2 separate regions of the Homo sapiens genome follow, and region 1 is linked to region 2. Evidence: fine-mapped expression QTL. A gene starts in region 2. The other region holds a variant in brackets. All regions are shown on one strand. Distances are between the middles of the regions.

Region 1 (11,200 bases), 910 kb before region 2:
AGGCAGGGGGGGAAGGGGGATGACTCAGAAATCCCGAGTCCTGAGGAATTACCACTTGGGGCTGGGTACTTGATCATACGAGAAGGTGAGGAGGTGGATTCTGGACTTGCATTTATGGTGACAATGAATCTGAAGTACAATGTCAAGGGTTTAGATAACAATGTTAAGAAAAAAATGTTAGGGAGAAACTGGGTCAAGGTATATGCATTTTGGAATTATTGGTTCTGTGTGGGCTCTAGAAATAAAGCGACAAAAAAAATAGCAAATATCCCAGTTGCTTAATAGCTTATTGTCCTGCGTAGCGAACTTTTTTCTTAAGGGAAATATCTATTTTTTGGATTTAACATTATTTAACATGTAAGTCACCTTATTCACTCATCAATTTTTGAAAACTAAAAATATAAATCATTCCATTTTGGTGATAAAATTTTAATTTCCTATACTGATAATAAATTTTTCCTTGACAAATGCACTTAGGGCACCCTTCACACTGAAAAACTACAAGAGACAAGTCCCACATCATCAACAGAATGTAAGAATGTAGGTGGATGAAGGATACCACCTGAGACTCTACATTTCTGTTAAACTGGCTTCAAATTATTAAGTAGCTAATCTAAACAAGTGTGCCTGTTTCTGCTCTAAAGCAATGTGGAATTCTTTCAATCCCTTAGGACGTGTTTTTAATAATAAACTTTTAAAAATGTGTTTAATAAAATATAACAAACTTTATAATGAGTATTCATACTCATACATACATAGTATTACAGGTTGAGCTGTGCCCCCTTAAAATTCGTGCATTGAAGTCCTAACCCCTAGTGCCTCAGAATGTGATTATAGTTGGAGATGGGGCCTTCAAAGAGTTAATTAAGGTTAAATGAGGTCAGATATGTGGAACTTAATTCAACATGACTGGAGTCCTTACAAGAAGCAGAGACTATGACACAGATATGTACAGAGGGAAGCCCATCTGGAGATACAGGGAGAAGACAGCCATCTGCAAGCGAGGAAGAGAGGCCTCAGAAGAAACCAACCTTTTCAACACCTTGATCTTGGGCTTCTGGTCTGTGAGGAAATACATTTCTGTTATTTAAGCCACCTGGTCTGTAGTAGGCAGCCTGAGCAAACTAATATACATGTATATTTTAGTTTTGTCTAAGAAAACTCTTGAATGGATTATGACAGACTGGAATTCTAGACTGATAATAAATTACTGTGTGACCTCCTTAAAATTTAGAGATAAGAGGAGGTCCTAGACAACGTCTAACGTTTCATCATTTTATACCCATATACAAAAGCTTTTTTTCTGAAACAGAAAGCATCATACCTTGGTTGGGAAGCTGACATTCCCTTGGATCAAGACATGGCTGCTAACTGTAGGAGTGACTACTTATGTAACAGTCATTCAAATGAAAATACCTATGCTAAAAATGATTATTTGCAACATTCATGTATTTACTTCTTATTAGACAAGTAATTATTAAGCATATGGCATATACCTTATACTAGGCATTGGAAAAATCAAAAAATAAAATACAGTCATTATCCTTAGGATTCTAATTCAAATTCAACACGATGTATGCTATAGCAGAGACATAAATACAGCCAAGGTGGTGTCTAGCTTTACCTGGGGAACTTGAGGAAGGCTTCCCAGAGGAGGAAAGTCTTTTGAGCTATATCTTTAAGGATGGGCAGGGGTTCGTCTGATGGGGAAGAGGAAGAAAGGGTACTCCAAGCAGAGGGAAGACTATCTGGTAAAATAGTAATTCTCAAAATGATCTGTAGATTCGAAATAATCCCTTTTGAAATATCATCAAAGTTTTTAAAGAACTAGACAAACTAACTCTAAAATTTATATGGAAATATAATGATCTGTATTAGCCAAAGCAATTCTGAAAAATGAAACAAAATCTCAGGCCTTAAACTTCCTGATTTCAGGACTTGCTATAATGCAGCACACAAGCCAATAAACTAGGCCAATCAATTGTCAGAAAGAAAGTTTTCTGGGTTTTACTAATGATTCCAAGCAGTAATTGTCCTTTAGTTTCTCAAAAAAAAAATTGTTTAATTTTCTAGTTCACCTGGCAAAATGAAAGACAGTTTTAGACATCATCATATACAGTTACAGAAATCAAGCCAGTGTGGTACTGGCATCAGGATGGATAAATAGATCAACAGAACAGAAGAGTGAGTCTAACAGAGGAGCCAAGGTAGCTCAACGGGAGAGGGCTGGTCATTTCAATATACGGGGCTTGGACAAGAGGAGAAACATATGCACGATAGCAACAGTAACATAACCATTGTCCCTTACATCACACCAAACACAAAGATTAACAAGAAATTGACCAAGGATCTAAATGAAAGAGCTATTACTTTAAATCTTCTAGAAGGGGCCGGGCACGGTGGCTCACACCTGTAATCCCAGCACTTTGGGAGGCCGAGGCGGGTGGATCACCTGAGGTCAGGAGTTCAAGACCAGCCTGGCCAACATAGTGAAACTCCATCTCTACTAAAAATACAAAAATTAGCCGGGTGTGGTGGCATGCACCTGTAGTCCCGCTACTCAGGAGGCTGAGGCAGGGGTATCGCTTGAACCTGGGAGGTGGAGGTTGCAGTGAGTTGAGATCGTGTCTTTGCACTCCAGCCTGGGTGACAGAGCAAGACTCTGTCTCAAAAATAAATAAATAAATAAATAAAAATTAAAAAAAAATCTAGAAGGAAAAATATAACAGACATTTTCTTTGTAACCTTGAGCAAGACAACAATTTCTAGATAAGATAAACCAAAAAATGAACAGTAAAAGCAAAAAATCAATATATTGGACTTCATCAAAATTAAAATTAAAATGTTGTTGAAGCCAGGCATGGTAGTTCACACCTACAATCCCAGTGCTTTGGGAAGCTGAGACGGGAGGACTGCTTGATCCCAGGAGATTGAGGCCAGCCTGGGCAACACAGGGAGACCCTGTCTCTAAAAGAATAAAAATAAAAATAATTACTCAGGTGTGGTGGTGTTTGCCTGTAGTCCCAGATACTCAGGAGGCTAAGGCAGGGGGTGGGAGTCCCTTTAGGCCAGAAGTTTGAGGCTGCAGATTACGGCACTGTACTCCAGCTTGGGCAACAGAGCAAAAGCCTGTGTCCAAAAGGGGGAAAAAAAACTTTGAAAGTCACCATAAAGATGAAAAGGCAACCTTCAGACTGGCAGAAAATACATACAAATCATCTGTCTGAGAAAGGACCTATGTTGAGAGTATACATAAAAAAACTTACAGTTTAGTATTAAGAAAACAACCAAGCAACCAACAACCCAATTAAAAATGGAGAAAAATTTGAATAGATGCCACAGTAAAGAAGATAGCAGAATGTCAAATGTGCACATGAAAAGATGGTGCAGATCATTACACAACAGGGAAATGCAAATTAAAACAATGTAAGATATTATCATGCACCTACTAAAATATCCAAAATTAAAAAGACTGACAATACCAAGTGTTGGCAAGGATATAGAGAAACTAAAGCCCTTAAATATTATTGTGGAGATACTTTAAAATGTTTTAAAAATAGTTTGGCAGTTTCTTTAAAACTGTAAAGTTTCTTTAAAAATTGAATATATGCTACCACAGAGTTTGGCAATTCCACAAAGTCTGCTCCCAAGAGGAGTGAAAACATGTATACACAAAGGCGTTTACACAAATGGTCACAGCAGCATTATTTATGATAGTCAAAAGTGATGAAAGAATTAGAATAAAACCTGAATAGGACATGGAACCAGAAGTTTTCAGGCAGGAAGTAACAAAGTGAGGCTTGTTTATTCAAAAGATAAATCAGACATGGAAGTTGGACTGAAGCAGGTGAGAGACTCGTAGCAGGAAGACCAGATGCTTAACCTCCTTGGATGGATTCTGTTTTAACTGACAGGAAGACAGTTGGATTTCCTAAAGGAGAGGCTTAGCTTGTGGGAGGAAGTGCAGTGGAAAGGATATGAACTTCTCATCATCCTGGTTCAGCATCCCAGGTGCGCACCTGAGCATGTGAGTCCCCCTTTGCCCAACCTCCAGTCTCAGGCGCCTCACCCACCACAGGAGGGGATGTCCCCAGCCTCACCGGGCTGCGGCGAGGCGGTGCAGTATCTGTGGACAGCTTCTGGCTGATGCCTGCCACATGGGTGGGACTCGGGGTAGCTGAGTTTCCTTCTCCTTCTCTTCTAACTTCTTATCCAAGGAAAAGGAAAAGACCTGTCTGGCCTTCCATAATCAGTAAGGTAAATTCATCCATCCACAGAGAAAATAACCGGGAAGCCTACAGTGCACATTTTCTCTCTGCCCCCACCCCCTATGCCCATGCCGCATCACCATGACGACTCTCTGCCCTGCCAGGCTTGCTCTGCATCCCAGAAAGTTGGGCCCTTGGGGCTGTACCCACAAGGCTCCCCTGATCTCTGGCTGCCAGCTGCCACCCAGCTCTGGGTCACATTTTCTGACAGTGGCTTCATCCTTCCCTGCTACAGATCCTCTTGGCCATCCTCTTCCTCTCCTCCATGCCTCCTGGAGCTGCGGCAGCACTAAGCAGGCCACTTACTTCTGAAAGACTGGGGTGCTGATGGAGCTGGCAGTTTCTGGGTTCCTCACTACCACTGCCCACATCTCTGCAAATTCATCTTTGTCATTAAAGCATCTAGAATTATTTGGATTGATTCTGTTTCATACTCAGACCCCAATTCAAAGGGTCTAAAACAGGTAAAATGGACAGAGGTGGGGCAAATATATCCAAATAAAAGAGGATCCTTTTATCTTATGCTCAGGGCCTTGCTGACAGAAGGTAGCATCTTTGGTGATGCGACGTTTTTTCCTCTCCAGGAGCAAACATCCAAGGAGCACAAACTGCCAGTCTCTAGTTGTAGTGAGCAACACTGGCTACACTGCTTTCTACTCTTATTCAAGCATTGTGCTGTGAGTGAATTAATATTGTGCTGTTTCCATTCCTGTTAAAATATTCTTCATAGTGACAAAGAATACACAAAAATGTCCAGACTGACATAACGGTGCCACCTGAAGCATAACTCTTGGAAGTCAAATGTGCTGTGACCAAAGAGGTTTCTAAAGAGACACAGTGTATTCGTCCATTCTCATGTTGCTAATAAAGACTCACAGTTTCACATGGCTAAGGAGGCCTCACAATTATAGCAGAAGGCGAAAGAGGAGCAAAAGCATGTCTTACATGGTGGCAGGTAAGAGAGTGTGTGCAGGGGAACTGCCTTTTTTTCTTTTTTTTGAGATGGAGTTTCACTCTTGTTGCCCAGGCTGGAGTGCAATGGCCCAATCTTGGCTCACCGCAACCTCCGCCTCCCGGGTTCAAGCAATTCTCCTGCCTCAGCCTCCCAAGTAGCTGAGATTACAGGCATGTGCCACCACGCCCAGCTAATTTTGTATTTTTAGTAGAGACAGGGTTTCTCCATGTTGGTCAGGCTGGTCTCGAACTCCCGACCTCAGGTGATCTGCCCACCTCAGCCTCCCAAAGTGCTAGGATTACAGGCATGAGTAACCGCGCCCAGCCGGGAACTGCCTTTCATAGAACTATCAGGTCTCATGAAACTTATTCATTATCAGGAGAGCAGCATGGGAAAGACCCGCCCCCATGATTCAATTACCTCCCACAGGGTCCCTCCCATGACACATGGGAATTATGGGAGCTCAAGATGAGATTGGGTGGAGACACAACCAAATCATATCACACAGTTTCTTCTCTGAATTTATGGGTCTTTGAGGTACTTTTATGACAATGAGAAAAACTCTCT[C/T]TAGGTGTGTGCAACCACATACCAGGGAACTAAGTCTAGGGAACAGACCATAAGCCGCATTTCATCCCCAATTCATTGCTGCAGCCAGGTATGCCTGTGCAGTATACAACCTACACAACTGCAAGTGGCAGCCGTTACTTCATATGATTCTAGGACACTCGCACTTACTTCTTGGACTCAATTTTCATATGTATAAAATGAATAATGCTATACACTTTTCACCTAGCTTTATACAACTAGAGGTATTGTACTTTGAATTCAAAGAACTATAACTTATCTAAAAACATTCAGGTATACAAAGTTCAACCATCCAAAGTGTTCACCTATACAAAGAAAAGTTACCATTCTTTTGTGGGCTGATTATAGGTTACTTAGCAGGGGACTTTTTGTTCCTGGTGGTTAACGCAGATCCTAATATCCAACTTGGTCAACTTTCAAAAGTGCCTTATCAGACTTTCACTTCTGGCTACAATGGAATAACAAGCACTGAATTTATCTCCCTCCCTGAAGCAACCTAATAATTCCACAAAATATATGAAACAATGGTTTTCAAGACAGTGACATGAGACAATGTGGGACAAAGGTCCGTGAGAGACAGGAAGCAAGCGTGCTGAGTCCTGCAATCACTCCAGCCTCCTGCCTTCAGAGAGTGGCCAGGCCCTGGTTCAGGGAGGGAGACCCCAGCGGGAGCTCAGCAGACTTGCGGAATTGAACCCACAGGTCTGTGTGTAGGGGGAAGACGGGGCAGCTGGAGTTAACAGAACTGAGCAGAGAGAGCTGCACAGAGAAGACTAGAAAACTGTACGACGGGTTCACCTGAAGCGTCTGGCTGCTGGTGTAAACCTGCGCTTTGGAAAATGGTATGCACACGTACACTCACTATGGAAAAATAGTTTGGCAATTTCTTAAAAAGGTGAACATGTATCTAACAGGAGATCCAGCCATTCTTCTCCAGAATTTCTAACCAATGCAGAGAAAACCCGTGTGCATGCAAAAACTTGTACACAAATGCTCCTGGCAGCTCTGTTTGAAATAGCCCCAAACAGGAAGCCACCCAAATGTTCCTCAACTGATGAGTGAATAAACTGGTGGATCCCTGCAGTCCATGTGGCGGCAGGCTGCTCAGTACCAACGAGGAGGGAGCTGGGACATATGCAGCAGCATGCGTGAGTCTTAAAATAATGATGCTGTGTGAAAGAAGACAAGCAGAAAGAAACACACACTGGGTAACTCCACTTCCAAAACCTCTAAAAAATGGTAACTAATCTATGGGGACAGAGAACAGATCAGTGGTCTCCAGGAGATGAGAAGGGGAGGCAGAGTGGGGTGGGAGGGAGAGAATCCAAAGAAACCTGAGGCAATTGTGGGGGTGATGGGTTCACTGACTGTGATAGTGGTCTTACCGGTGTATACATGTATCATGACTAATTGAATTGCACACTTTCAATATGTGTGTTTTATCACACACCACTTATACCTCAGTGAAAAATTTCATGCACAGAAAAAAGGTTTAAGAATACAGTGGCTTGTTTAACCAAAGATTTTCATATGTGGCTGTCTTCTCACAATGCAGCTGGAGGGAGGCCACAAGAAGAATGTGTTCACACCCCAGGAGTTGGAGGTTGCAGTGAGCCGAGATCACGCCACTGCACTCCAGCTTGGGTGACAGAGTGAGACTCCATCTCAAAAAAAAAAAAAAATTGTTCATGCGCAGTCACTTTCTTAACCCCAATTTTGCTATTGAGCAACGTGTAAAAGGATTGTCACTATGCTGCATTTGAAAGCATGCCCTGTTTCAGATGTCCCAAATGGCAACAGGGTCACTCACAAAGAGAACAGGGTTCAGTATATGCCTTGATTCCTGTCCTCCAAAACGGTACCCATAGGTAAGTTCTCCCTGCAAAAGGGAACTGAAAAAATGAGGTCCTGGCTTTGGGCTTTCATTACTTTCATACACACACACGCACATGCACACGTACTCACACACACATAAAGTTTTTGTTTTGTTATTCTAATTTGTGCTTCGATTTGCCCAGGAGACTGGGTCCTAGAATTTGATCAATTCTACCTTCCCGGTCCACTGCTAGAGAATTAATCTGGAATCACATTAAAAACTCCTGGAGCCCCCATCACTATAGCTTCTGAAGGAAAAGAATAGGAAGAAAAATCAATGTGCTTTGTGTATTCACAGACTTCTGATAAACTCTGGGCATGAATCCTGTCTCGATTTTAAGAGGCTCTAAATGGTAGTGAATTGTGAGCCTCACTGCAGAGCTAAGAAGTAGCCCCCTCAGAACTGGAGAGTAAACAGGGCCACGTGGGTTTCCCATGCCCAGTCCCCAGGGATTTAGACCTAGTGTATGTTTGTCACCACCAACTAGTGACAAGGACAAATTTTCCAATTAGAAGAAAGTCCTTTATTTGAAACTATATATTTCCCAGATTTCCTGTTAAAATGATTCCCTTTTATTAAGTGATGTTGAGACTAGATACTTTTGTTACTGTGTTTTTAAACATCCTTACATGGTAAAATGAAATATTGTAAACCTATATTGCTCAGTCCTCCACTTTATTTTTAAGAAAAGTTAACTTGTTAATAAAACTGAAAAGTCTTAAATGTATCAATACTTGTCATTGCATGTGGAAAATTTTATCGACATTTTGGTTTTGGTTTATATAGACTAAGTTACAATAAAAACAAAGAACTGTGAACACAATCACACATGATCACGAATGACAACGCTACTCCTACAGCGTAAGAAATCTCATCTTAAATTTCCTCAACCCAATATTTTCAAAAAGAACTTGACCTGCCAAGCTTCCAGAAAACACAAATAAGGAGGCAGAATAATCACTTCCCACCGTTGCTCCAAGGAGACCCCCGAAGAGCCTGAAGATGTGAAGCTCTGATAAGGTAACTAATAATTCCTTGGATAGTCTACTGGCGTAGGAGCCATGGAAACAGAGAAACAGCATTGGCACCAATGAAGGTTAATCAAATCATAACACAGACATGCATTTTATTACTCTGACGGCACACAGCAACACAGAGTTATCAGGTGCAGATGAACCTAATTAGATTGGGTAGGGGGAAATGGACAGCTGTGAGGTGACTGCTTTGAGCTCTCCTGAAAGATAAGGTCAGATTTACCAAAGACACATAGGTGGAAACTCAAAGACCAGTTTTTGGTAGAGGGGCAGGTCCTTGTGAGACTCAGTCCTACTATCCTGAGGTCAAGAAGTTCAAAACAAAGTGGAAAGACTGGACATCTGATTCACTTGTTTTAATTTTTTTTTTTTTTAATTTTTAGAGATGGGGTCTCACTCTGTCACCCAGGCTGGAGTGCAGTGGTGCGATCACAGCTCACTGCTGCCTCAACCTCCCATGCCCAAGTATCTCCTGCCTCAGCCTCCTAATTAGCTGGGACTACAGGCCTATGCCACCATGCCTGGCTAAGTTTTGAATTTTTCTGCAGAGATAGGATCTTGCTATGTTGCCCAGGCTGATCACCAACACCTGGACTAAAGCGATCCTCCTGCGTTGGACTCCCTAGTGCTGGGATTCTGGGTGTGAGCCACCGTGCCCAGCCCCTAGTCACTTTCAAACAGAATTTAGCAAGTTTGGAAAGGTTACTAGATAGCAAGGAAAACCATTTTCACAGAAGGCAGTAAGACAGTAGCAATGATGTAATTTTTCCCTCAAAAAAACTAGAAGGCAAGAGATCTCCAACAACAAGGGCCTGGGAATTTGACACACTTGTTTCCACACACTTCATAGAGCTACGAACTGGAGAAGTCTTTGAATGTGGGGTAAGATAGGGAAGGTCAAGCCCTGTAGGTATACAGGTGGGCATGGGAGCCAGACGGAGTCAGTGGACAGGTGAAGAGGGCCTTATCCATCTAACATGTACTGTGGTTAGGCCTGGAGACATTCAATAAGTGGCATCTGAGTGCATGAATGTTTCAATACCCTCAACGCACTGCGGTTATGTTCTTGAAAATGTACATTGCATTCAAACATTATACTCCGAACTTAGGTGCCCAAATGAACAGTATTGATAAATGGAAATTTCATTTCTCATAGAGTCCTTGACTGTCCTCTCATATCATAAAAAATAAAGGGGATACATAGGTAGATGAATACAGATGTGATACCCTTTAAAAATAATAGCAGGCCAGGCATGTGGGCTCATGCCTGTAATACTTTGGGAGGCTAAGGTGGGCAGATCGCTAGAAGTCAGGAGTTCAAGCCAGCCTGGACAACATGGTGAAACCCTATCTCTACTAAAAATACAAACATTAGCCAAGCATGGTGGCATGTGCCTGTAATCCCAGCTACTAGGGAGGCTAAGGCAGGAGAATCGCTTGAACCTGGGAGGCGGAGGTTGCAGTGAGCTGAGGTCACGCACTGCACTCCAGCCTGGGTGACAAGAGTGAGACTCTGTCTCAAAAAAATAAAAATAAAAATAATAGCAAATAATGAGCATAAAAGTAACAAAGATTTATGTTAAACTCCTAAATGTTTCTTGTATCTCTATAGGTATTACCCCCAATCAAATTCCCAAATTAAATAAATTTTATAAAAATACATGCAGAGCTTCTAATAACAGAAATTCCACTCTACTCTAAGGATGTCAGTACAATAGTGCTATTAAAAACACATTTGGTTTACATTCAAAGGCTACCTTTCAGAGATTAAGGCACATCACATTTTAAAGCGAATCTCAAAGAAAAAGTAGATAAATTTATTTTATCCACCACTGAAGTCCAATCACTAAGCATAGCAGCAGATATTTAACATGTGCTTAGAAAATATTTTTCAAATAAAAAATGATTTATCAAAACTCGTAAGAGATACTTCAAAGCATAATATCCAAAACAGCATAAAATTAACTGGCCAAATTAAGCCTAAAAATATTAGTAATAAGTAACACTGAAAAAATTATTATCCTCAGTATATAAAGAGCTCTTACAATTTAGTAAAAACATGCTATTATCAAGCCACAGAAAATAGGCCAGTGACATAAACGTACCTATCCCAGTAAATGCTTGAAACTGTTTAACCTCATTATTAATAGTAATTTAAACTTTTTTACCAGAAAGAGAGCATTTTGCTCATCAAATTTACAATCTTTCTAAAAATTCAATAACCACCATTGAATAAAAATTCAATGGTAGTTAGCTCTGGCAAAATGGGTTCACTCATACATTGCTAGTGGGAATATAAATTAGCAAAACCTCTCTGAAAAACAAACTGGTAATATAATTCATATCAAGAGTTTTAAAAAGTTTATAACTTTCAACACAGCAACTCCTAGTAATAATCTCTCCTGTGACAATAAAATATATGGGCAAAGATGGTGTATGAAGATGTTTATTACAAATAATTTTTTAAATATTTATATTTTCA
Region 2 (11,200 bases):
AAATGCAGACTTCAAAAACATCCTCAGAAATAGGGCCAAAATTGTAAAGGGCAAAGGGTCATTTTAGAGCCTTTGGACCCAAGGAAGAACTATTATATAATTACATAAAATCTTCTATGCAAAACTTTAGTAGAGCCTATTTTTGACACAATTTTACCTCATTATAAACAGAAGCTTTGGGGTACTTAGGCATAGAGCTGGTTTTCATCAACTTATCAAAATGGCAGGGCAAAGAGCAGTACACAGTATATTCAACTAGAAATATAAATTGAGACTTTAAAATTCACTGCACACAAGCTTGAAAACAAATATGCAGATGTGTAGCCAAATGGTGAAGTCGGAATATACATTCCTGATGGCAAGGGACTTTTTCTGTTGTGTTCCCTCGTTTCCCTGGCACCTAGAGCAGTTAAGGGTACATAGCAGGTGCTGGAATCACTGGATCTGCTTTTGCAAAACTAACGCACTATAAGATGAGAATGAGAAGTTTTCTTCTAAATTAATTTGAAAAGTTAAAAGATACTGTTTTTCATCTGTCAAGACGGCAAAAATAAAAAATCTTCGATGGCACATGGGAGGAAATGGGCACTCTTATACACACTGAAAGGGAGGGCAGGGCCACCAAGGACAGTTGTGCAGCTTGTACACTGAAAGGCACTACCCCTAGGGTGAGAGAGAGGTGGGGGACCGGAGATCCAGGAGGCGTTCTGCTAGTGAAAGCTGAGTCAGTCTCAGGAAGGACGTCTTTTGGCAATTTTCAGCCCAGAGGGGCAGGGCAGCTCTTTACTACCATGTTGTATTAGTGGAGGCTTTAGATAGGCTTGTAAAATTGGGCAACTTATTTTGGAAAAATTTTGAAATACCTAGGAAAATGTAAAATCTACAAACTCTTTAACTCAAATTGTCATACGATTTTTATTTTACATCTATGCTTACATGTGCAAGTAAAAAGATATGGCCACAAACACTTCTGACAACAGTTGTCTGTAAACCTAATGAGTGCTTATTTATTGGTAAATATTTTCATAATTAGTGTATCCTATAAAAGACTAGGCAGGAATCGCTGTGGAGTGGATCTGGACATGCAGATATGTAAATTCTCAAAGAGATGCTAAGTGAAACAAGGTATAGAAGAGACTATGTTCCAATGAATGGTTTTTGTCAATCAAAAATCTTCTTAAAAGTCTAAGACACTGAATGTGTATTTCAATACTGACAACATTGTTGTATATATAACCATGCACTCTAATATCTGCTGTTACTCAAATACCTAAATCCAGTTCTACAGAACATTTAGAACATACCACAAATATCCCCACTAACATTCCATTTTAAACACAAAGAATTGCTCATTTTTAAAAAAGTCAAAATATATTTTTAATAGAGGTACCAAAAATTACATTTTTCTAAATTGAATTCTTTTAAGCTTTTCTATTCTGCTTTATATCATCTTGAAGTCCTTCTCCACACTTTCCACAAAGGCACAATTTTTAACCGACTTCAATTAAATTATGTTTCTGTAGCTGCCTGGGTCAGGGCATTCAACACATCAATCACAATGCAGGTGGGAAATGTAAGTACTTTTGAAACAGTCCTCATGCCAATAAGGGAATCTTCGGTTTTGAGAAAGTAAAAGGAAGGTACATGTCATTAGCAGTGAGGTCACAGTCAGTCCTGTTTACTCCTATTCTACCAGGAAACCCATCTTTACGTTTCTCCTTAAACTAAGCCAGGATTTAAATAAAGTGGCAGAATATTATTCGCAGTAAGGTTGAGGCGGGAAATTAAAGAACAATAAAATTAAAAAGAAAGAGAAATAAGTTTTCCTGTTTTAGGCTAACTTGTTCCAGAAGCAGCAACAGGCACAGCCTAGACCCAGGAAAAGTCTTGATAATATTATCTAATATGCTCTGGAGACTCTCTCAGCACTCCCTCAACACAGGGAGAAGAAAAACAAATTTTCCTTTGTTTTACAGAATGAGTTTATAGACTCTTGTTCTCTGTAACTAGTGATTTCAAGTATTCTGTTTTATCTAAGTAGTACAACGAAGGTCATAAAAAGCCTGAGTAGGCCTGAACTACAGCTGCCTGGGCACCACAGAGAAGGTTATAGGATAAGCCTGTGCCCAGGCAAACCTAGAAAACGAACATCTGGGTTGCTTGGCAATGGTCATCTGCAATCCTGTCTTTGTCCTGCCTCTGTATCCCTGCTTTCACGCCACTGTAAGCTTGCTTCAAGCTAGCCCACCTCCGTTTGTGAAGTGTGTATAAAAGTCAAGTACTGTCTTTATTCTGGGCCCAGTCTTTTGGATGTGAGTCAGCTGGGCCTGAGTACACTCAATAAAGATTCTCCTGCTTCAACCTGAGGTCTCCCTCATACTCCCGAATCCCGCAACAAGGTGAGTGTAATAGTTAGAGAAAGCATAGGCCTGAAAGGAGCAAGCTTTGAGAAGCACTCTTACCTTTAACAGAAAATCCCAGATACATACTATTTACATTTTAGTGATCACTGGATAAAGTCTATAATGTCTTTCCTGGCTCTGAATTTTTGTCACAAAAACACAAAACCCATCACTCCAAGGCTTCCTTTTAATGGTTTTCACTTTCACCTACCTTTAGCACTGTTCACGACACCCAAATCCCAAACTGACCATTCAGATGTTTACTGAAATGTGGCTAATGAGGCTGGGCGTGGTGGTTCATGCCTGTAATCCCAGCACTTTCAGAGGCGAATGCGGGAGGATTGCTTGAGCCCAGGAGTTTGAGACCAGCCTGGGCAACATTATGAAACTCCATCTCTACAAAAACTATAACAAAAAATTGGCAGGCATGGTGGCACACACCTGTAGTCACAGCTACTCAGGAGGCTGAGATGGGAGGATCACTTGAGCCCAGGAGTTGGAGGCTGCAGTGAGCTGTGATGGTGCCACTGCACTCCGGCCTGGGTGACAGAGACAGAACCTGTCTCAAAAAGAGGAAAAAAAAAAAAAAAAGACGTGTGTCTAATTTCAGAATTAGGCAATGCAACTAGTTGAATATTTTATTGCACATTGTCCATGATCTTATATGTAAGGCACATTTCCTAGGGAAAGCAGGCATGGATTTAATCATTTATGTTGTACTGCACACTTATTTGCACTATGTAAAACCATGGCTGGAGTGAGAGAAATAACACTTTTAAAAACCAACCTTATATTCTCCATGTCATTACCAGTAATTGATAACTGTTTAATCATCAACTCCAAAGATATTTCTTCCTTATTGGAAGAATTCCAGATAAAACTAAACAGAACTGTCCAAACACATTTCATCCTAATAAAGTTATTTATATAATCACTTATTAGGTCATAACTTATAACTGAGTAATGTTCTTTAGATCTTAAGTGCTTGTCTTTATATAGCTTTACAATAAATTTGTTTCTCTTAAAATTATCTGTGCACTAGATTAAGTTAAATTAAAATAAAATGTATTTAACTGTCTTCAAAATAAGGTATAGGCTATTTTCTTCCTGTAGACTGACAGCACAGATATTGGAAAATCTCTTCTACTTGGTTTTCTGATTCAGTTCAAACTTGTGCTTGCAAGTGAATCTTACGTAAATGTCACCTAAAAAGAGCTCAAGAAGACTCATAAAAAATATTTTTTTCGTAATTTGATTAACTTTCAAGTCATTCACCAAAAGTCAGACCATGCTAGAAAGGGAAGAAAAGTTGGACAACATTCTTGTTTTACCACAAAGACCATGCCAGTTAGCTGGCTTGATTCTCCCACTGATGGGGAGAATGTTTACATTTTAACAATAACTTCACAAATAAACAGATGTAAGAAGTGTTTTCAGTGCATAAAGATCATATACTTTATAAATCCACCTCTCATCTTTCTTCTGGACAGACCACATCTGACTTCGAACGTACTTACTGCAATCAAAAGTGTTTTGTAAAGGACCCTCCTCAGGAATAAACAAGCTCACTAAACCCTCCATACATAACCTGGAGAAACCTCCACAATAATGAAACCCCATCTAGCACTGTTTTTCAAACATATGGTGCATTTCCATTAATTTTCAGGGATAGCCCCTAAAGTAACTTTTGGCTCAACAACCCTGGAAGAGAGGACCTTTGCTCATCTTACACATCAAGTGTTCATGAACAACTCTGATGCCACTAAGTTTCGTTCACAAACTTGCACCTCGGTCGTTCTTTTACAAAAAAAAAAAAGAAAGGTTATTTTGCAAAAGGCAATAGATTTAATCTTGGCTACTATTTACTCTTAATGTTTCTTTCATCTCAGCCCTCCAATGAGAAGTTTAAAAGGAAACATCCGAGGGAGCAAGTTTAGATCTATCTGGAGGAGTTTCTGTGGAGCCAGCCACCCTCACCAGGTGCCTTCCATTAGAGTTTAATGCTTTGCTGCGGTTTCCTGAAAGAGCCCCACAGAGAGTGGGTCTCGATGGGTCCTGAACCGCACCACAACCGGCCAGTGAGGTGAGGGGCGAAGGTGAGGGGCGGCGGCGGGGCGAAGGTGAGGGGCGGCGGCGGGGAGAAGGCTTCGGGACCCCACACGGTCCGGGGGACCGCGAACGAGGAGCGGGGGTGCGGGGCCGCCTGGCGTCCCCGTCGAGGCGGTCTTCATGAGAACGCTCAGAGCAGGGGCGGGCAGGCGAGGGCTTCGAACGCACACACTGGGGCCCCGGACCCGCGTCGCTGAGCTGGGGAGCCCGGCGGCGCGGGCCGGGGACGGCACGGGCACTTTGGCCCCGTCATTGACAGTTGGCACCGGGGGTCCTGGTCGGCCGAGGCGGGGCGTGGCGCCATACCGGGGCGTGGGGCGGCGCAGAGAGGCTGTACCTGGCAGGTACCCACGTACCTATCATGGTCACTGGGTAGGTGGCGGCTGCGGGCCAGGAACAGGCCCATGCGCGCAGCGGCGCCAGCCGCGCCTCCCACCAGCGGCTCTCCTGGGTTAAATCCTCCAGGCCTCCCCGCCCCCGCGCCCGGCCCTAGGAATGCGCACGCGCGGAGGGCGCGGCCCAGGGCCTGCTGGGAGTCGTAGTTCTAACGCGTAGTTTCTCCTCACGCCTCCTGCCCCCAGCCCCCCACCGCCGCCCTTTCCGGCTTCAGGCCCAGCAATCTTACGTCACCGGGGGGCGGGGCTATGCGCCCGCCGTGTTGACCAGTCGCTTAGCAACCGGGAGGCTTACCTTTGGAAGCTTGTTGCAGCTCTAGCCAAGGTCCTGCCCTCTTCCCGCCCCGCCCCTAGGGTCCAGCTCCCTTCACCTAGGAGCTGCCAAACATCTGGATCAACCTGGGCACTACGAGGGGTTGAATTTCTACCATTATCGCGCCTTTTGATATTTTTTTCCAGACCTCCTGCTCACATCCGTAAAGCCCACTGATTCTTTTACTACACTTTTTATGAGAACAAGACATTTTCTAGGAAGATGGTGGCAGAAAAAGAGACCCTGAGCTTAAACAAATGCCCAGACAAGATGCCGAAGAGGACCAAGCTGCTGGCACAACAGCCGCTCCCGGTGCACCAGCCTCACTCTCTGGTTTCTGAGGGTTTCACAGTCAAAGCCATGATGAAAAACTCAGTCGTAAGTGATCTTCCTGAATTAAATGCACTCGCTCTGAATCAGGGGACACGAGATTTACAGAGGTTGGCCAGCCTTAGGATGGACTCTGAGCCATGTCCTGGGTGGTCTTTGCCAAAAAAGGCAGTTACTTGGCAAGTAGCAAACGGTGCCCCACAGTGTGTGGGGGGCAGGCTAGGTTGTTAGAATCTTGGGCAAGTGATGTACTCTGCCCATTTATAAGCACCTTCCTGATAACTTATGGTTTCTGGACCGCCCAAAATTACTCTTAAGCTATTTACACGAGGAAAAAAGATCCCCTTTACTTACTAATTCCTAACTAGCCCCACTCAGCAAAGGGCCTTATAGAAGGTGAGTTCTTAGAAATCATAAACTCTTGCAAAATTTAACATGAGCTGATATACAACCGGGAACATAAACTCATGAAATAATCTATAATGAGAAATTTCTTCACTTCAACCTAGGAAATTTTAGAATATCCTAGCATTTGCTCTAACAACACTTGTCTCTTACAAAATGATGTCATCTTCTTAGAGTACTGAAAGCCAACTTAATATGAACACTGTTTCCTGACAGGCCTTTTAAGATGATGTGCTTTAAACAATACAAGCTTTAGCTCATATATCTCTGCTACTAATACAATTCATATTTCATCTCTATTATTTGTAGTAATAAAAATAAAATATTCTAAGTATCATTAGAGAAAAAAGATTAAAAATATATACAAATATTTTAGCTGTCTGCATGATAGTATATATTTTTTAAACCTTCCTATTTGTTAAATAGCTTTACACTTGGTATGCTAAGACAGATTTTGCTACTGAGTAAGCAACTGTCTGGGAATGAGGCATTAAATAATAAATGCATCTTTCAAATTTGTGTAATTTACACCCTGGGAAGATCTGAGTTATTACATGGCAATTCATTATGTTAAATGAATAGTGTTGTTTTCCAGTGTCACATTATTTCCTTTGCTTATAGGTTGCAAACCTGATAACTTATTCCTAAACGACATACTTAAAATACATGAATGAAACAGATTACCTATAGACCTCTAGGCCAGGTTCCCATGTGGCTATGCAAAACGATATCCTAATTATTGGGAAGTGTGTCAGGTGATTTACAGTAGTTAAAATTCTTGGAAATGGACTAAAATTCTGCTTGTTGTAACTAATTCTTTTTCATGGAATTTCACATAAATTGGTTCTCCTAGGAGTCAAGATGATGCATTTATCAGCAATACCATAACCATTCAGGTTAATCATTTAGTTTTTCTTCTACACAATATTTACAATTTTGATGTTTTTTAATGTTATACTTTAATTTTTTTTTTACTGGTTGGGGTTCTTTTCTGTTTTTTCCTAAACCTGTATTCATAATTCTTGTATCATATTAATTCTTTAATATAATCTTACACCTAAAGAGATAGTTCTGCAAAATCTGATGTTTCTGTATTGCCAAATGTAATAAGTATGCCTACATGACTTAAAAAAAACATTGATTATGAAGCAGGCTTCTTTATAAACAACTTAATTGAGATCCATTATCTTCTCTTTTTATGTTCTAAAGGAAAATCTTGTACTAGCAATACCTCTCTTGCCATTGGAAATCGTAATTCTTAAATGCAAACATTATTTATCCATTCATCTATTTATTCAGTCAACAACTGTCTCTCTTTTTTTTTTTTTTAATACCCAGTGTTTGCTAAGCACAGTTCTGGGGATTTGGGATCAGCAAAGCAAAGTCCCTGCCCTTAGTACTCCGAGGAAAACCAAAATAACAACATTCAAATCTTGATAAAAGAAGGCTGGACAATACCGTTTATACAAAATAACTTCAGTGGTACAGGAAATAAAAATTTTCAATTTCATAACCAATATTTACATTTCACCATTTTTATCTTTAGCAGTATAGACTTCTCAGCATTATAAGGTGAAAATGTCCTCATCTCTTTCTGAAGGTGTATTTTGATTCAGGACGTGTATGCCAATTTCCAGCTTTTCTTAATTGCAACCTCATGCTCCAAGAGCCAACACCCTCCAAACCACTTTTCCAGTTAGATAAGTCAACATTCCAATGCTCTTCCACCTAAAACATGAAGAACTGTATATATCATAAGGAGTTATACAGAGACTCCTGATATTTCTCTGAGTGCGATAGTGATACAAGTACATAAACTTGATAATAAATATGTTTCATCAAATGGGCTGTGCAAGCAGAAATGCTTATTTAAACAATCTGGATATGAGAGTGCAAGATTATTGAAAAAATAATGATAAATGTAAATGGCAAAATTTTTAAAATCTCAATGTCAAATATTTTTCTTCAATAGAAACTAGACTTTCTTTCCATGAAATTTTTGTTGCATTCTATAAGAAAACAAGCATCACAAAAGCCCTGCAATGAAATAATATTCAAATTCACATTTTTATAGTGCTTGCCTATAAAGAGATATGAGATACACAACTTGAAGATTTCATAGTTCATTTTCCTTTAAAAGTCTTGTTTGGGGTGTGATAGAGCCCATGACCAGAAACTAGTAACCCAGTATTTTGTTGTCTTTATCTTGTCAGATACTTTCTGTGCTGAACAAGCTTATCACGAAGCAAGTTAGAAAATCGACCCAGGGTTATGGTGACAGAGAAGTTGAGTTCAGCCTAAGCTTTCTATTACAGCTTTCCTTCTCAAAAGACTATAGATGCTTTATGCTCAAAGTTTAGGGGAATGGAATAAATAATTTTTTTAATATTAAAGGTTGAGTATTCCTATTCCAAAAGTCTGAAACCTGAAGTGGTCCAAAATACAAAACTTTTTGAGTGTTGACATTACACTCAAAGAAAACTCTTTTGAGCATTTTGGATTTCAGATTTTCAGAACTGGCGTGACCATCAGTATATAATACAGATATAGTCAGCTCTTTGTACAGATTCTGCCTCCATGGATTCAACTAACCTTGGATTGAAATGTTTGGGATAAAAATTTTATCTGTATTGAACATGTACAGACTTTTTTTTTTGAGTCATTATTCCCTAAACAATAGAGCATAGCAACTATTTATGGAGCATTTATATTGTTTTAGATATTATAAGTAATATAGACATGATTTAAAGTATATAGGTAGAAATGTGTAGGTTACATACAAATACTACGCCATGTTATATCAGGGACTTGAGCATCTGAAGATTTTGGTATCTGCAGGAGGTCCTGGAAACAATTCCTCATGGAGACTGAGGGATGACTGTATTCCAAATTTGAACAAAAAACAAAAACAAATCCAAAACACTTCTGGTCCCAAGCATTTCAGATAAGGGATAGTTCAACCTATACTTTACATGTATAGTGTGTTTTATATTTACCAATCATGTGCTCATTTAACACGTAGTGGTAATCATCAATATTTATAAATTATATATTAAAATATTAATTTGGCTTCTGTAACACTGACCAAATAACAATAGCTTAATTAAGATGGAAGTTGTTTCTCTCATAATAGAAGTTCAATTTTGTAGGCAATCCCAGGAGGTTGGGCAGCATTCCCCATGAGGCAGGTGCAGGGGCATAGGAGCATGTTTGTTCTTTGCATCCTGTAAAATGACACCTGAGACAAGGGGGGCTCGAGACCACCAGGGTCAAATACCTGCCCTCAAGAAGGAGGAAAGTGGAAGCAGAGAGCTTCCCATTATGTGCATGACCCAGACACAGCACCCCACTTTCATTCTCATCCAACTGGCCAGAACCTAGTAATAAATACACCTACATTTTCCCTTTTTGCAAAAGCCTATGAAAGCTTGACCCATGAAGCAACTCCCAAGCCCACGTACCTGTCTCCTCAGGAAAAGGATGAAGGAAGCTATGTAGTTCCAAAAGGGCATCATCTCCAACACCTACTTCAGGTGGAGGAGAGAAAAATGGGTATGGAGCAATCTGCAAGAATGAGGCAGGAAGAAATGAAGAGCAAACAGCTTCACTATGAGGGCATGTCCCAGAAACAGCAATCCTCACTCCTGCTCAAATCCATTGCCAAAACCTAGTCTTATGGCCACAGCTAGTTGCAAGAGAGGCTGGGACATGTAGTCTTTAACTGGTAGCTCTGTGTCCGGCTCAAACTCACAATGTTTTATTACTGTAGCCAAGGAATATTGGGGGATAATTAGAAGTGTCTAGCTCCAGTGCTAAATGTGCTACATTATTAGTGAAGAAAAGGAGAGAGACAAGTAAAATAATTACAATACAAATAAACAGATGTCTCTGGCAGAGAAGTACTAATGATGAAGGGACCAAGTGGCGATGAACTAATGGGTGCCCTCATCACCTTTTGTCTAGGCTTGTACAATATCATCCACCTATCAATTGGTTGACTCCCTCAATCAATTATCAGTACAATTACACTAATCTTTCTGGTACAATGTTCTGCTCCTATCACTATTCAGAGCTTTTGGAGCTTCCCAATTCTTATAGAAAAAAAGTCAAGATACTTCCCCAGGGCCAGCAAGGTCTTGTGTGATCTAATCCCATTCTGTGTTCTAAAATTTCATCTCCCACTGTTCTCATTTGCTTCAGTCAATCTGAACCAAGGAAATAAACTCATATTCTTTATTTTTGTGTTTCTGTTTATGTTGTTCCCTTTGCTCGAACACCCTTCTCCCTACATATCTGCATATACAAATTCATTCTATCATCAGGTAACACATATCTATTGATCACAGACTATGTGCAAAGCACTGTTTTAAATGCTAGGAATTTAGCAGTCAGCAAAAGACAGAACACATGCTGTCAAGAAGCTTATATTTTTGTGGCCAGCAAAATGCCAACTGCTTTAAGAAGACTTCTTTAATTCTCCCTTCCTGTCACCCACATAGAAAGTTATCCTTTATTCATTGTGTTCTACTTTGTATTATGGTCATTTCTGCTCATGTTTTATCTCCTTATGTAAATTCTCCGTGAGGGCAGTATCCACATCTAAGTCACTTTTTAATCTTAACCAGAACCTAACAGTGTATTCAATAAATATTTGATGAATGAAGGAAAGCAATTCTACCCTTTCTTCTTATCTCATATTCTCCTACTTTCTTATTATAATTGTTATTTGTCTCTATTTTGAATTTTTTTAAGCCATCCTCTCTAATTGTGGAGCCCAGAAGCTCCCTTTAAAACTTGAGAAGGCCGAATCATGGCATTCGTCACCTCAACCCCTCAGGTGGCTCCCTGCCTCACTCAGAGTAAAAGCTAAGCTTCCTCTATTGGGAAGGCCCTGTGTGATCTGCCCACCCTTGCTGCTTTATGCAACTCTGCTGGCCCTGCCTCCGGAACTCAGTTAGTGCCACGCCTTTGCCCTTCCTGTTTCCTCTGCCTGAAATGCATTTTACCCTGTGTGTCCTCATCTCTTGATGCTTCAAATTTCTGTTTAAAAATTAGCTATTTAGTGAGCCTCTTCCTGACCACTCTATTTTAAACTTCAGACCCTTAACAATCCCTTCCATCCCTGCTCCAGCACTCCCATCTCCCTTCCCTGTTTTATATTTTTCCCTCTAATATTAATTTAGTTGAGCCTGTGTTTTTCTTCTACCAGAGAGTAAGCCCCAGAAGGGCAGGAATTTGTTTATTTC

The links.
Region 1: its variant is fine-mapped to the expression of PACRG in uterus (GTEx, PIP 0.94).

What each region holds. Positions count from the first base shown.
Region 1 is chr6:161,809,253-161,820,452 of GRCh38, forward strand. The region is part of intron 6 of PRKN (parkin RBR E3 ubiquitin protein ligase); the gene reads right to left. Among named protein-coding and RNA genes, the nearest start is that of LNCR-SMAL, 420 kb to the right of the region's middle. The variant C/T (reference allele first, on the strand shown) is at 5,791.
Region 2 is chr6:162,722,795-162,733,994 of GRCh38, forward strand. It overlaps PACRG (parkin coregulated), which reads left to right and starts at 5,180. Exons shown (of 5, transcript NM_001080379.2): 1 at 5,180-5,597. The coding sequence starts at 5,442. PRKN (parkin RBR E3 ubiquitin protein ligase) reads right to left here and starts at 4,972. Exons shown (of 12, transcript NM_004562.3): 1 at 4,868-4,972. The coding sequence starts at 4,874. RefSeq lists silencers at 4,550-5,089, 4,579-4,800.